Linked DNA regions of Homo sapiens. The protein of the gene in region 2 purifies or fractionates together with the protein of the main gene of each other region. This does not show direct contact. Each region holds a gene or a part of one and is shown on either strand. Other genes may lie near its edges.

The links.
Region 1: the proteins of ZFP69B (region 2) and ACOT1 purify together in Homo sapiens (affinity purification with mass spectrometry; one large-scale study listed by BioGRID and IntAct). This does not show direct contact.
Region 3: the proteins of ZFP69B (region 2) and KCTD16 purify together in Homo sapiens (affinity purification with mass spectrometry; one large-scale study listed by BioGRID and IntAct). This does not show direct contact.
Region 4: the proteins of ZFP69B (region 2) and UGT1A10 purify together in Homo sapiens (affinity purification with mass spectrometry; one large-scale study listed by BioGRID and IntAct). This does not show direct contact.

The regions. Positions count from the first base shown.
Region 1 is NC_000014.9:73,535,790-73,539,942, forward strand, and holds the start of ACOT1 (acyl-coenzyme A thioesterase 1), read left to right. Parts: upstream 1-1,353; 5' UTR 1,354-1,632; coding exon 1,633-2,089; intron 2,090-4,153. UniProt on the Homo sapiens protein: Catalyzes the hydrolysis of acyl-CoAs into free fatty acids and coenzyme A (CoASH), regulating their respective intracellular levels. More active towards saturated and unsaturated long chain fatty acyl-CoAs (C12-C20).
Region 2 is NC_000001.11:40,449,043-40,453,275, reverse strand, and holds the start of ZFP69B (zinc finger protein 69 homolog B), read right to left. Parts: upstream 2,801-4,233; 5' UTR 2,315-2,800; coding exon 2,188-2,314; intron 1-2,187. UniProt on the Homo sapiens protein: May be involved in transcriptional regulation. Essential for Golgi structural integrity.
Region 3 is NC_000005.10:144,169,589-144,173,672, forward strand, and holds the start of KCTD16 (BTB/POZ domain-containing protein KCTD16), read left to right. Parts: upstream 1-1,284; 5' UTR 1,285-1,421; intron 1,422-4,084. Other genes in the region: protein YIPF5, read right to left, coding at 258-367. UniProt on the Homo sapiens protein: Auxiliary subunit of GABA-B receptors that determine the pharmacology and kinetics of the receptor response. Increases agonist potency and markedly alter the G-protein signaling of the receptors by accelerating onset and promoting desensitization.
Region 4 is NC_000002.12:233,639,448-233,642,947, reverse strand, and holds part of UGT1A10 (UDP-glucuronosyltransferase 1A10 precursor), read right to left. Parts: intron 1-3,500.

The DNA of each region.
Region 1 (4,153 bases), on a different chromosome or scaffold from region 2:
TTAGAGACAGGGTCTTATCCAGGTTGGTCTGAAACTCCTGGCCTTAAGAAACCCTGCCACCTCAGCCTCCAAGTAAACTGGGATTATAGGCGTGAGCCACCTCACCCAACTTCCACTTCCCAGCTGTATGATCTTCAGAAAATCAGTTAAATTCTCTGGGCCTTAATTTACTACTACGGTTCTTGTAAGTATTAACAATTAGCTACTATTATTTACCTTCTTTAGTTCCTGAGACTTCTATGCACAGAATATACTTGATGTGTGCCACAGAACCTATACAAAGGTAATTACAACTAACAGGGAGTTGTATGATAATGACATGGGACATGGGACATGAGAGCATTTGGAAAGAGATAAAAAGGCTTACCTTGAGGACAGCCTTATTAGGAGCAGAGGCAAACACAGGTTTTGTGAGTTTGAAGCTTACGCATTTATAGGTTTCTCTAATTACCAAGATAGGAAATTATGAAATCAGGTACAAGGGCTTGGGAGGGGCCTAAAGCTTAAGTTTGATGAAAAAAAAAAACCACCTCTGGTTGGAACCAATAGCCTATGAAAAAGTAGAAAAAAGCCCAATGCATGGGGAGCGCCGGTAGTCCCTTGAGGTGTTTGAGAGGCTGAGGCAGGAAGATGGCTTTAGCCCAGGAGTTTGAGGCTTGTAAGTGCGCAGTGATGGTAAACCGCCGCTGTACTCCAGACTGGCAACGTAGTGAGACCCTGTCTCTTTAAAAAAAAAAAAAAAAAAAAAAAAAGATGAGAGGTAACACTTGCCTGACTGGGACAAAAATGAGAAACCAGTATAAGAAAATAATAACTATTGGCCGGGCGCGGTGGCTCATCGCCTGTAAATCCCAGCACTTTGGGAGGCCGAGGCGGGCGGATCACAAAGTCAGGAGTTCGAGAAATTAATAACTATTACCTCATTTGGCTATTTTTACACCTGTAAGGAATAAAGCTCAGAGGTCACACAGCTAGTAAGAAGCCAGCACCCTTCGATGTGGGAGTGATGTGGAGGATAGGCATATACAGAGAACACGAAAGCAAAACACCATGGTGCAGATTTTGAAAGAAAAGCCCTAAGATTAGTAATGAGTGTGAATTATTCAACAAAGTGATCAAAACCAACTCCAGTCCTGCATTCCTCTTCGCCATCAGGAGTTTGGAGCCTGGAGACTGCTAGCTGCCTGGTTGTTGTTGTTTTTTTTTTTTTCTGAGACGGACTTTCGCTCTGTCGCCCAGGCTGTAGTGCAGTGGCATGATCTTGGCCAACTGCAAGCTCCACCCCCCGGGATCACGCCATTCTCCTGCCTCAGCCTCCCGAGTAGCCGGGACGAACCAGTCCTGGCCCAGCCCATTCCGCGAGCCAGCAAGCTTCTGAAAAGCAAACCTAGGAAGTTGCTTTCCAACATAAAGTGGAGGTTTCAACACAGGAGACTTTAAGCAAGTTCCAGTGTGTCTATATTTGGTCTGGCTGATCGGCTGGACTCTGGCCTTCCCCGCTCACATTAGCAGACAGCTCTGCCCTAGTGGGCGTTTAGCCTGCGACGGCAGCCCGAGAGGAAGAGTTGGGCAGAGTTGCAGGGGTCTCCACAGCTGAGGCAGTTTGGCCGGATTATTTGGGTTCCTGCTCGGATGGCGGCGACGCTGATCCTGGAGCCCGCGGGCCGCTGCTGCTGGGACGAACCGGTGCGAATCGCCGTGCGCGGCCTAGCCCCGGAGCAGCCGGTCACGCTGCGCGCGTCCCTGCGCGACGAGAAGGGCGCGCTTTTCCAGGCCCACGCGCGCTACCGCGCCGACACCCTTGGCGAGCTGGACCTGGAGCGCGCGCCCGCGCTGGGCGGCAGCTTCGCGGGGCTTGAGCCCATGGGGCTGCTCTGGGCCTTGGAGCCCGAGAAACCCTTGGTGCGGCTGGTGAAGCGCGACGTGCGAACGCCCTTGGCCGTGGAGCTGGAGGTGCTGGATGGCCACGACCCCGACCCCGGGCGGCTGCTGTGCCGGGTGCGGCACGAGCGCTACTTCCTCCCGCCCGGGGTGCGGCGCGAGCCGGTGCGCGCGGGCCGGGTGCGAGGCACGCTCTTCCTGCCGCCAGGTGACTCACCTCCGCTAATTGTTCCCCTCTGCCCATCCCTGTTCCTGCGCTTTCCACTGTGTGTGTGTGTGTGTCCCCTTCGCCCCGCCCCGCTCTTTTCGCTTGTGTGTGTGTCCCTCCTCCCGCCCCACCACCACCACCCCGGGCTATGTTGCCCAGGTAGGTCTTGAACTCCTGGACCCAAGCTATCCTCCCGCCTCTGCCTCCCCAAGAGCTAGGATTGCAGGGTGAGCCACTGCGCCCGGCCCTTTGAGGGGAGTTACACTTATTTTTTTATTTTTATTTTTTTTCGTCCCTGCGCTTTTCATACGGAGAAAGGATGTAGCTTCCAACATTCCGGAGGTTAGTGTAAGGAGACAGGAATGGAATGGAAAGTTGGTTGGGGAATTGCCCCTGCCGCTCCAAAACTGAGAGGTCCCTCAAACCTAGTGCTCAGTTAAAAGACATTGTAAGGGCTGGGCGCGCTGGCTCACGCCTGTAATCCCAGCACTTTGAGAAGCCGAGGCGGGCGGATCACGACGTCAGGAGATCAAGGCCATCCTGGCTAACACGGTGAAAACTCGTCTCTACTAAAAATACAAAAAATTAGCCGGGCGTGGTAGCGGGCGCCTGTCGTCCCAGCTACTCGGGACGCTGAGGCAGAAGAATGGCATGAACCCAGGAGGCGGAGTTTGCAGTGAGCCAAGATCGTGCCACGCACTCCAGCCTGGGCAATAGAGTGAGACTCCGTCTCAAAAAAAAAAAAAAAAAAAGGCATTGTAAGGAAAGAGAAAAGACACATAATATTAAAAACAAACAAAACAAAACAAAAAAAACAGGCCGGACGCGGTGGCTAACACCTGTAATCCTAGCACTTTGGGAGGCCGAGGCAGGCGGATCAAGAGTTCGAGACCAGCCTGGCCAACATGGTGAAACCCCGTCTCTACTAAAAATACAAAAATTAGCCAGGTGAGGTGGTGCACACCTGTAGTCCCACCTACTCGGGAGTCTGAGGCAGGAGAATCGCTGGAACCCTGGAGGCAGAGGTTGCAGTGAGCCGAGATCACGCCATTGTACTCCAGCCTGGGGGACAAGAGTGAAACTCCATCTAAAACAAAAACAAAAACAAAAAACAAACAACAACAACAAAAAATTTTCAAGTAGTTTCAATGTTCTTATTTATGTATGGACCAGGAAGTCACTTTTTTTTTTAATAAAAAGAATTCCAACTGGTTTTCTCACTGTATTTCCATGGCAGCTAGGAGGTGCCAGGTGGCTGGGCCTGTGACAGTGCAGAGGTTTTGGTGCCTGCCCGCCCACCATTGCTCCAGCTGCAGCTGCTGCCCCCTGCAGGGCCTGTTCGTTCCTGCTGCCTAGCTCCCTGCTGGCTGGCTATGATCTCCGTCCTGTTACCATTCCAGGAGAGCAGCCACCTCCCTGTGCATGGCAGGACCAGGTACTGATTGTGGCCTCTCCTCTTGGCCTCGAATGGTATCCTTGTCATCAGTGAGCAAGTCCCCAAAGACCACGGTCTTGTCCATTGTCAGGATAATTCACTCCACAAGCTGGGACTCCAGGTGCTGCTCTACCCAGCGGTGCTTCTCACCCACACAGTGGTCATACTTTGGCAGGGGCTGGTGCAGTGTGAAGACCTCGGTGTTTTGCATGTGCTTCATCTCTTGCAAGGCCCTCTGGGGTTGGGCTTCAAGACTAGGGAAAAGCCTAGGGCTTCACACCCATGGGCCACTTTATCCACCAGGTCCGGCAGCAGGGTGAGGTACTGCTTCCAGACCAGGAAGCTGCGGTGCTGCTGCAGTGTCACATGCAGCTCCCTGAGAAGCGGCGGCTGAAGCCCCACAGGATGCCGTCTGGAAGCTGCCAGCACGCGGTCCCTGTCCATCAGCACACGCGTGGGCTGTGCTCATCGCTGCCGGGGCACTGGGGTTTCTCGGGATCCTAGGGGTATGGGGCCCAGAAATGTTCTTTAAAAGTTTCTCATTTTTGCAACTTTTCTTTCAATTCACACAGTATGTTAAGGTTTATGTAAATTAGCATTTACAATAGGAAAGCCTCTTCCTGTCAAAT
Region 2 (4,233 bases):
TAAAAATATGCACTACAGGCCAGGCCCGGTGGCTCAAGCCTGTAATCCCAGCACTTTGGGAGGCTGAGGTGGGTGGATCACGAGGTCAGGAGTTGGAGACCAGCCTGGCCAAGATAGTAAAACACCGTCTCTACTAAAAATACAAAAATTAGCTGGGCGTGGTGGCAGGCGCCTGTAATCCCAGCTACTTGGGAGGCTGAGGCAGGAGAATCACTTGAACCCGGGAGGCAGAGGTTGCAATAAGCCAAGATCGAGCCATTGAACTCCGGCTTGGGTGACAGGAAAAAAAAAAAAAAAAAACCACTAGGAATTAAGGCACATGAATAACTGTCTTTGTATTTTATTCCAACTTTTTATCATGAATATTGAACATCTATACATCCACATCTAGATTCAACAATTGTTAATATTTACCATATTTGCTTTACCTATCTACATTTTTTCTGAAGCACTTCAAAGTCGTCTGCATCATAATACTTTATCCCTAAATATTTCAAATAAGGATCTTCTCTTGTACAACCACAGTACTATTTATTAAATCTATGAAAATTAACAATAATTCCATAGTATCATCTAAATATTCAGTCCATATTCAGATTTCCTCAACTGTTTCCTCAACTTTTATTCTGGATTTTTTCCAAACCAGGAGTTAATCAAGGCTCACACATTCAAAGTGGTTGTTACCTCTAGTCTCTTTTACTCTAGAATAAGTACTTCCCCTTTCTTCATGATGTTGTCTTTTTAAGATACAAGAACAGTCTGACTGTATCCTCAATGTGAGGTTTATCTCATTTCTCCATCCCCTGTATTTTCTGTAAACCAGCAGTTCAGTCTTTAAACTTAATTTAGGATCATGTTCAACATTTTTGGTAGGAATACCTTGTAGGTGGTACCAGGTGCTTTATATTACAGTATCTGCAAAGTATAAAATGCCCGGCTATCCCATTACTGAGACATTTGATTAAAACTGTGACCACCACACCTCACTATTGGAAAATTATGTTCATTCCTTGCCATTTAGTAAGTAATTTGAGGGGATAATACTTTGATATCATGTGAGTATCTGTTCCCCATTAACCTTTCAATTATTTTATTTACGGTAAAAGATTCTATCATTCTTTCTACATTTATTTATTTATTTATTTATTTTTGAGACAAGGTCTTGCTCTGTCACCCAGCCTGGAGTGCAGTGGCGCCATCTCAGCTCACTGAAACCTCCCCTTTCCTAGTTCAAGCGATTCTCGTGCCTCAACCTCCCGAGTAGCTGGGATTACAGGCATGTGCCACCACGCCCAGCTAATTTTTGTATTTTTAGCAGAGATGGGGTTTCATCATGTTGGCCAGGCTGGTCTCAAACTGCTGACCTCAAACTCCTGGTCTCAAGCAATCCGCCCACCTTGGCTTCCCAAATTGCTGGGATTACAGGCATGAGCCACCACACCTGGCCTCTTTCTACCTTCATTATTGGCACGCATTTTCTGTAAAAAGCTTTCCCTCACCAACTGAAGAGGATCTAAAAGGCAAGGTAAATGCACATTCATTCCCATAATAACCTATTTTTCAAAGTAAGGAATCAGTGTATTAATTACCTCCAATGTTTGCAAATGAATTCCCCCCCCCCCACGTCTTTCTCTATTTTAAGTGTCAAGGTGATCATGTGGAATTTTACTTATTCAAGGTGTTACCATCAGTTTGGATACTTAAGCTTTCCCAAATCTGTCGAGTGAGAGACCCTTAAACCTGGCCTCTTTTGACACATATCCATAGTCTTTAAGCTCTTCCTTGCTTTCTAGCACAAGTTACTCCAGGCTCACCTGGTACTTCCCCTGCTGCTTCTCTTTCTGACCTAGCCACCAAGTTCCTGTGTGACCCTGGGCAGGCCTCCCATTTGATTTACATTTCCCCACTGTTAGAATAAGAAAAATCAGGTTAAGTCCATCCTGCCCCACATGGCCATGGGAAAGATGAAAATAAATAATATACATAACCATGACACTGAAATACTGGTCCTAGGCTGAAAAGACCACCACTACTTAGGAAAACCCCAGACTAGGAGCCACAATCAACAACTCCGGAAACCCTCCACCCACTCGTCTCCCTAAGAGATGCTTCCACTCAAGTGACTCATTCCTTCTCACACTAGAGGGGACTGCTTTTCCTCCCTCCCACCCATCAGTTTATTCTTACCTTCTGCTTTAAACATCTTAGTCACATCCTCCCACAGGGCCACCCGCTCCGTGGCCGCCTTTGGATGACGCAACTTCACCCAGGTGCTGGCCTCGGTGGGCAGGGTGATCAGGAGCTGCTGCAGCATGACGGCGTCCGCACTCCTTTCTGAGGACCCTCTGTCTTAGCCCATAGGGCTTGTCCACCTCTGATGAGGAAATTGCTGGAAGCTCTGACAGGAGGCTTCCCAATTGTACCGATCTCCTTAATCGCCGACTCCTACTCCTCAATGTCCTCTCTCAGGAACCCAGGGAACATACAGTATCAAAATCCGAGATCTGGACTTGTGTCTATCATCGGCTCTCAGGGCGTATCTCCCAACTTGAGCTCCATCTGTCTCCTTGGCCAGCAGCTGGAGGCGCCAAGTATTTACTCTCAGCAGCCCCTGCAGATGCTGAGCAGAAGACATTAGAATCAGCAAAGGACTAAGGAGGCTCAGTCATAGGGCAGAACGCTAGAACATATATGGATCACTGTAAAATGTTTCCAAAAGATACACGGAGACGGTGGGCAGACACAGCCCACAAAATTCAAAGCACCGCGCACATGTCAGGAAGCACAAAGAGACGAATACAACCCAATTCTTTGTTTGGGGCAGTAATTATGTGTAAAGTAGCCGGGGATTTGGAATCCCAGCTCTTTCACTAGTCGGCTGTAGCAAACCGCGAAACCGCTAGACCCCGCCTCCTCCTCCCCAAATGAGAGGCTAAGTCCTCCCCACAAAGCAAAACGCCCCCGGCCCTAGCCTCCCAGCCTTTGTCTGAGCACGACTCCGGGGCTGCGGAGAGCACCGCGCGCGACAGGGTGGCCGCGGGCGGAACTCGCGCTTCCCGGCTCGCCCAGCTCCCCAAGCCCGGGACAGCCACCCGCTCACCCTCTCCCCGCTGGGCCGGCACGCCCCCGCCTTCCCACCGCTGCAGCCGGGTTCCGGCACTGCGCGGCCAAGCTCCCACGTAGCGCTGCGGCGGGCAGTCGGGGCCCAGTGCGCCTGCGCAGCGGCTGGCTAGAGCATGGTTCCCAGCGTCCTCCCGGGGAGCCGCTCCGCCAGCGCAGACGCCCCCACCGGTGCGCGCCGGGTTGGCTGCGTTCAGGGGCTCCCAGTATCCGATCCCTGCGAGCATCATCAGCCTGGCTCCTGCGGGAGGAGATGGAGCCTGCGTTCTTGGGCCCCAGACTCTGATGAAGAACAACCATCTTTCCTCCGCTGGGAAAATGCACGTGAACGTTAGGGTGAGCCTTTGAAACCCGTGACAAAAGGGAGCCATCGGCATCACGTTTTTTGGTGAAACGACACTGGTGTAAAATAATCCATAGCACTTTCCCTAAATATTATGTACATGCCAGTTATTTATTCTCAGCAGACAGTTGAATGGATTCCGGTATATTGTTAAAAGAATACCACAACAGTTTTCTCTTCTAGTATTCAATAAAAGTTCTCATGTTTATTGCTTACCTTGTATTTCTGAAATGCCAGAAAATACACAAAAACAAAAAAATTATTGCCTGTAATTTCAGCAAGCAGCGGTAACCTTGCTAACAGTTGGTGTACAACCTTTCCTGCACACACACAACGTATTTCATGCATTGTTATATATTTTCCACAAAAGCGATTATACTGTAATGCTGTTTTATTGCTGAGTTTTCTCCCTCCAACAAAATTTGAGTACATCACTCCAAATACATTTCTACATCAACAGTTTACAAAAACAACAAATGAGGAAATAGAATACAATTATAGTACTTGCTAGCTGTTATGAACCGAATGTTTGGATTCCCCAAAATTTATCTTGAAGCCCTAACCTCCATTGTATTTGGAGAGTATTTAGAGATAAGGCCTTTATGGAAGTAATTAAGGTTAGAATATAGTCCTAGTCAGAAACGAACCCAACTCGACCTTACTTGGGGCTTCTAGTCTCCACACTGAGAAAATAAATTTCCGGTTTTTTGTTTGTTTGTTTGTTTGTTTTTTTGAGATGGAGTCTCGCACTGTCCGCAGGGCTGGACTGC
Region 3 (4,084 bases), on a different chromosome or scaffold from region 2:
CAGTTCTTCAAACAAGCTACTTTTCCATTCATGGTACACCTGAAGAGTTTGCAGAAGACACTCAACTCTTAAATAGAACAATACCTTCGAAGCCAAGCCAGTGTCACATATCTCTCTAGAGGAAGAAGATTATGCATGAAAGATCATACTCCTGATAAAGGACATGTTCACATATTGTTTTAGGCAGAACCAAATATTCTAAATATGTGTTTTCACTGCAATGTAGACTAAATTAATTGCCAAAGATGAAAAGTTACTTGCTATAGGGTCCTCCACTTCCTCCATAATCATAGGACTGCTGTGACTGATCATCGATGCTGTAACTTGTCTGGTAGAAATCCGTGTTTAAGTTTTCAAAGCCTGACATTGCAAATAATCTGTAATAAAAGAGAAATGGCAAATATTCCTTATGCCCAAGGTTCTACTGAATTCGTTCCTGGCAGTCTGCTTAAGCAAATAGAAACACAACAAATATTTTTTCAGTAATTCGGAGAGGGGATGGGGGCGGAAAGTACGCAGCATTTGAACGACGGTAGCGGAGAGAGAGTAAGAAAATGTATATTCTTTTAAGTTGCGGCCCAGTAAGACAACTCCACCTTAAAGAGCTGATATGCCTTCCATTAGGGGCGAGGTCGTGGGAGTTGTGGTTCCATAAGCGGTCTAAAATATCAATAACAACAAAGATGATTTTTCACCTTAGGACTGGGCTTTACAGCTGACAAGGCGACTGCTTCCTTGCAAAATAAGGCCTGCGGCCTGCCAGGAAAAAGTGCAGAATCTGGAAGGTCGCGCCTGAGGTGCAGGGGACCGCGTCAGGGCAAGGGCTTGAATGAGAGCGAGGGTCTGAGCGAAAGGACCAGGGCGCGGCGCCGAAAGACGGCAACAAGCCCATTTGCACGGGTGTGGAGAGAAGCTGAACACTGTGCCACGGGCCTGGGTCACTCACCAAACTCTGAGGCTGCGCTGGCGGCAAAGGCAGTAGCTTCACTAATCCCAAACAACCCCCAAACTCTGTTTCAGACCCTGAACCAGCCCCGTTGCTACGTGTCACAGGGCCAAAGAACGGCTTCCGGGGCACGCCCGCTCGCGCAGGCGTGTTAGCAGGTTGGGCACCGGTGGGCGGGAGGAGGAGACACGAGTATGGAGCTTGCGCAGTATCTACCCAACCTGCGGCTGGCCCGTGCCAAAGAGGAAAGTGCTTCCGGCAGCCTGGTTAGGGGTGGAACCAGGAAAGCGCAGGCGTAGCAATTGCTGCTTACTCGTAGGTAGGAGGAGGAGTTTCTCAGACCTAGGTGATGGAGGAAGACTGGGAGGCGCTAAAATGAGACAGACGGAGTCCCCTCTCCTGTCCACAAACTACAATGCCTACAATGCCTCGGTGTCAGCATTTACTGTGATTCAAGCACTGTGCTAAAGTGTTTGTATGTATTATTTAATCTTTACAACCTAATGAGATGGTTACCCTATTTCCCTTTTGTAAGTGAAGCTATTAAGTATTCATTCATTCTGTGCTAGCTGCTGGGGATACTGTGGTAAATATAAGCTAGGTGACATCTACCCACCTGGAGTTGGTGGTGGAGAGGGGTAATCGAACACATACAAATGCATGTGAAATTGCTACTAATATTCTTTAGTGTTCCATAATTCTTTGAAAGAGTAACATTCATCTGGGAAGAAGAGTCTGTAAAGCCACTATAAGAGGGTTATCAAAGGGTGAGTGGGAGTTAGAGAAGACCAGAAAAGAGAAGAAAGGGCAACGGGAAAGGAGGATAAGGGAAAATAGCCTGAATATTTTAGGCAAAGAGAACAATGTGTGCAAGATCTGGGAAGCATGGTCTGAGGAAAGATGAAAATCGAGCTCTGAACTTCAGCATTATTAACATTTTGAGTCAGGATGTTTCTTTATTGGGGGCTGCCCTGTGCATGATGCTTAGCAGTAGCATCCCTAATCTCTAGCCATTAGATGCCAGTACTCCCCCCAACCAACCACCACCACCATCACCACCAAGTTGTGACAGCTAAAAATCTCTCCAGACATTGCCAAATCCAAATGTCCTTGGGGGCGGTGGGGGCAACATTAGCTGAATTTGTCAACCACTCTTCTAAGTGGAACCTGAGTGACTGGAACAGCAAGTGAGGGGAGCCACATAGGAGTTGAGGCTGGAATAACAGGAAGGGGCCAGGAAATATCCTGTGGGATTTGTGTGTTGGTTCTAAAAGAAGTGAAGATTGTGAACTGATGAGTGATGTTTAAATTGTTTTCTTTTGAAAATGATTGCTTTGGCTCCTGTGTTAAATCACTTTCCCAAGATGGTGGAATCCCGAATATTGTGACTCGAAATAAGATGCTATTAACTAATGAGCAGAACTTTCTTCAGGGTTTATAGCAATAAAATTTATCATGAGCCACTGCATTATATTCTGGGATCAAAATCCTGAGGCCCTCACAAAAGAAGCCAGACCATTGTTGGGGACTAGTTTCCAAAGGAACAATAAAATTTCACTTAAAACTTTTCTCTCAACACCCCCCACCCCAATAAAACAAACAGAAAACGCACTCCCCTCCAAACAAAAATAGCAACAACAAAAGGATGTAAGACCCAACCAAAAAACCTAGGATTGTACTCTAGAGACCAACAGGCAGCTGCCCTTTGAGGTTTTTACCCATTAGCGAATTTATTTGTTTTATTTTTGTGGATACATCATAGTTGTACATATTTATGAGATAAATGTGACATTTTGATACAAGCATACAATGTGTAATAATGAAATCTGGGTAATTGAGATATATCTGTCGCCTCAGACATTTGTCATTGCTTTGTGTAGAGAAAATTATAAATCTACTCCTAGTTATTTTGAACTATACAATAAATTATTGTTAACTATAGCTACCCTATTTTGCCACTGAACACTAGATTTTTGTGCTTTCTAACTATATTTTTGAATTTCTGAAATTGCTCATTCAAGTGTTCACCACCTTTCATCAATCATTTTAGCATTTATTGGTTTAGGTATCATCTGCACAACTTCAGGTAGAATGACCACATATTATGATTTGCTGGAGACAATTCCATTGTCCCATTTTCTGCCTATTTTTACTTACCCTCAGCATAATTATTAATGTTGCTCCCTTTTACTCTCAAAAATATCCTAATTCAGTTGATAAACTTTGTGATTGTACTTTCTTTAAGCTACATTATCCATGAAGCTGTGTTTCGAGTCATCAATAAGATGCAATAATCCATCATTATCTATTTAATTAATCTTATGGTTAAAAAAATTCTAGTCTCTTTTGTTTTTTTCTGATGTTTCTATTTCTTCTGAATCAAAAAGGATATCCCTTTCAAATTTGAATGAGCTACAAGAATATGAGCATTAAAAATTGCTGATTTAGATGCTGGCGAGGTTTTAGAGAAAAAGGAATGCGTATACACTGTTAGTGAGAGTGTAAATTAGTTCAGCCATTATGGAGGACAGTGTGGCGAATCCTCAAAGACCTAAAGACAGAAATACCATTCGACCCAGCAATCCCATTACTGGGAATACACCCAAAAGGATATAAATCAGTCTATCATAACTACGCATGCATGTGTATGTTCATTGCAGCACTATTCACAGTAGCAAAGACATGGAAGCAACTTAAATGTCCATCCATCATAGACTGGATAAAGAAAATGTGACACATATACACCATGAAATATTATACAGCCATAAAAAGTAGAATGAGGTAATGTCCTTTGCAGGGACATAGATGGAGCTGCAGGACATTATCCTTAGCAAACTAATGCAGGAACAGAAAACCAGATACCACATATTCTCCTTATAAGTATGAGCTAAATAATGAGAACACATGGACACATAGAGGGGAGCAACACACAGTGGGGCATATTGGAGGGAGGAGGGAGAGAATCAGGAAAAATAACTAATAGATACTAGGCTTAATACCTGGGTGATGAAATAATCTGTACAACAAACCCCCATGATACAAGTTTATCTATGTAACAAACCTGCACCTGTACCCCTGAACTTAAAATTTAAAAAATTTGCCTGTTTAGGAATGAATTATTAGATATAGATATTATTC
Region 4 (3,500 bases), on a different chromosome or scaffold from region 2:
CTCCACCCCCAGCTTGAGGTGGCTCAGAACAGAGAGAGAGACAGAGAGAGAGAGAGAGAGTGAGAGAGAGAGAGAGACTCTGTATTTTTGGGAGGAAGTAAGGGAAGAAAGCAAGAGTATGTGCTGGAATCCAGAGAAGTATCTTGGATCTTGTCCAAGACCATCAAGGCAATACATCTACAAGTCTGCAAGAACCACAGCGTTACTAGGCTTGGGGTGCCCCCTAAAGCAGAAACAGCTTAGATTACAACACCTAAGTCCTTTCAAATATCTGGAAAGCCTTTCCAAGAAGGACGGCTACAAATAAGCCCAGACAATGAAGACTACAATAAACACCTAACTCTTCAATGCCCAGACACTGAAGAATGTCTGCTAGCATCAACGCCATTCAGGAAAACCATGACCTCATCAAATGAATTAAATAAGGTGCCAGGGACTAACGCTGGAGAAACAGATATAAGCGACCTTTCAGACAGAGAATTCAAAATAGCTGTGTTGAGGAAACTCAAAGAAATTCCAAATAACACAGAGGAGGAATTCAGAATTCCAGCATATAAATTTAACAAAGAGATTGAAATCATTAGAAAGAATCAAGCAGAAATTCTGGAGCTGAAAAATGCAATCGGCATAATGAAGAATGCATCAAAGTCCTTTAATAGCAGAATGGACCAAACACAAGAAATAATTACTGAGCTTGAAGACAGGCCATTTGAAAATACATGGTCAGAGGAGACAAAAGAAAAAAGAATAAACAACAATGAAGCATGCTTATAGGATCTAGAAAATAGCCTCAAAGGGGCAAATCTAATAGTTATTGCCCATAAAGTGGAGGTAGAGAAAGAGATAGGAGTAGAAAGTTTATTCAAAGGGATAATAACAGAAAACTTTCCAAACCTAGAGAAAGATACCTATATTCAAGTATGAGAAGGCTAGAGAACACCAAGCACATTTAACCCAAAGAAAACTACCTCAAGGCATTTAATAATCAAACTCCCAAAGGTCAAGGATAAAGAAAAGATTCTAAAAGCAGCAAGAGAAGAGATAAATAACAAACAATGGAGTTCCAATACATCTGGCAGCAGCCTTTTCAGTGGAACCCTTACAGGCCAGGAGAGAGTGGCATGACATATTTAAAGTGCTGAAGAAAAAAAAACCTTTTACCCCAGAATAGTATATCTGGTGAAAATATCCTTCAAACAGGAAGGAGAAATAAAGACTTTCCAAGACAAAAGTTGAGGAATTTTATCAATTCCAGACCGATCCTACAAGAAATGCTACAGGGAGTACTTCAATCAGAAAGAAAAGGAAGCTCATGAGCAAGAAGAAATCATCTGAAGGTACAAAACTCACTGGTAATAGTAAGTACACAGAAATACACAGAATATTATAACATTGTAACTGTGTGTGCAAACTACTGTTATCCTACATATAAAGACTAAACAATGAACAAATCAAAAATAATAACTAAACAACTTTTTAAGATATAGGCAGTACAACAAGATATAAATGAAAATCACAAAGAGTTAAAAAGTAGGGAGCAAAGTTAAGACTAGTTTCTATTAGTTTTCTTCTTGCTGTGTGTTTGTTTATGCAAATAGTGTTAAGTTGTTATCAGGTTAAAATAAGGTTTATAAGATAGTATTTGCAAGCCTTATGGTAACTGTCATGGGTGGCAACTCTCTGAGACTGGTGTGGCATGGGAGGTAAAAAGAATTTACCAAGATACTTGTAGGTAAAGAAAGGCAGATTTATTAGAGAAAGTAGGAAAATATGTTGCAAGATAGTCAGCAAGAGAAGAGCTGGCTGCAAGGAGACAAAGGCTTGCTGAGGATTTTATAGGATGGTGCTTGTGCTGCAGAGAGCTAGATGCAGTATTGATAATGCCAAGGTTGCAGTGAGATAACTTGCATTTTTCTATCAGCTGAGGGTCTGGTGATCGCTGGGTGCAGGAAGATTATGTTATTTTTGCAGGAGGGCTATGTGTCCTAGACCATGAAGAAAGGGAGACTTATAGTTCATCTGCTTTTTCTTTTTTGCTTTCCCCTGGTCCTGCCAGCCTAGCTCTTTTTCCCTAATTAGGGCTCCACATTTCCCCCCTGACATAGCAACAATGACAAATCTTTGGCATGTGAGTGAAGGTCTCATCTTCCAACTGCTTCCTACTGACCAAGGGTATAGAGTTGGCCCTACCTAAGATTGTTGGCCTATCAGGAGGTTACATGGACCTAGATCCCTGGGTTGGCCCCTAAATTGGGGAGGGTCACTGTTGGACTATGGAAGAACAGCATTTGCAGCCTAAAAAAGAGACTGTTCTCTCCCATTTGAATGGTCTTGACACCCTCATAAAATTTGGAACTTACTCAATTGACCAAGGATGTATGGGTTTATTTCTGAATTCTCTGTTCCATAGATCAACATAAAAAGATGTTGTATGAGGCAATTGGAGGTAAATTAATTATGGGCTAGAAATGAGATAATATTAAAGTATTATTATTGTGTTAGGTGTGATAACGATATTGTGGCCGTGTAACAAATTTTACTTATTTTTTATATTTAATAAAATATTCAATGATGGAATGACAAGCCAAGAATTTCCACTAAAAAAATGACAGCCAAAAAGTTTCTTTAAAAGGTCAGAATAAGGGGATAGATGAATTAATACAGCAAAACACTGAAAATTATTTAGCCTAAGGATTGATATACAGGTGCACATTACACTATAGTCTTTTCATTTTGTATGTTTGAAAACTTTGAAAATAAATACTTGAAGTAAACAATTTTAGTGGGAGGCCTTAGTCTTGTCAACCAAAAGTTAACTTTGAATTTGGATCTTGGACTATAGCCAGAATCTTAGAGCAATGGGGAAAGCACAGATCTTTTCTTGCTCTGTAACCACATCCTATCCCCAGGTCTGCAGAGCTGCACCTACCATGGATGGTATAGATGAAGCCTGAATTCTTTTCCCCTAAAACCAGTCATCAATTCTGTTGGAACTCACCAAAAATTCAAAGAGACTAAGAGTGACTTCCTCTTTTTCTCATTAAAACTATTTCAATGTTCTGCTGAATTATTTACACATCACTAATCAACACACACACATTAGAATACTGAAATGTAAAAGAATGACCATACCAATTGATATAGTTTAAAAGTTTGTCCCCTCCAAATCCCATGTTGAAATTGGAGATGGGGCCATCTGCCATCATTGTTAAAGTATTTAATTACATCCCTGGCTGTAATTCTCCTGGATAGACTCAAGGAGATTTTGTTACAGGAGATCTTCAAGAAATCCCCTGTGCAGGGTCTGGGACACTGCACGCAAACACACCTGCACATACACAAACACATACATGTGCAAACACATACTCTATCATCAAGTAATGCTTCCTTCTCATCAGACAGATGAGACTCAGACTCTGAATCCTGTTTCCCAGCAAGATGTAACCAACTGCATGCTTTTCCCAGACACATCCTGGCATCTGAAACAAGGAAAGAGCAAT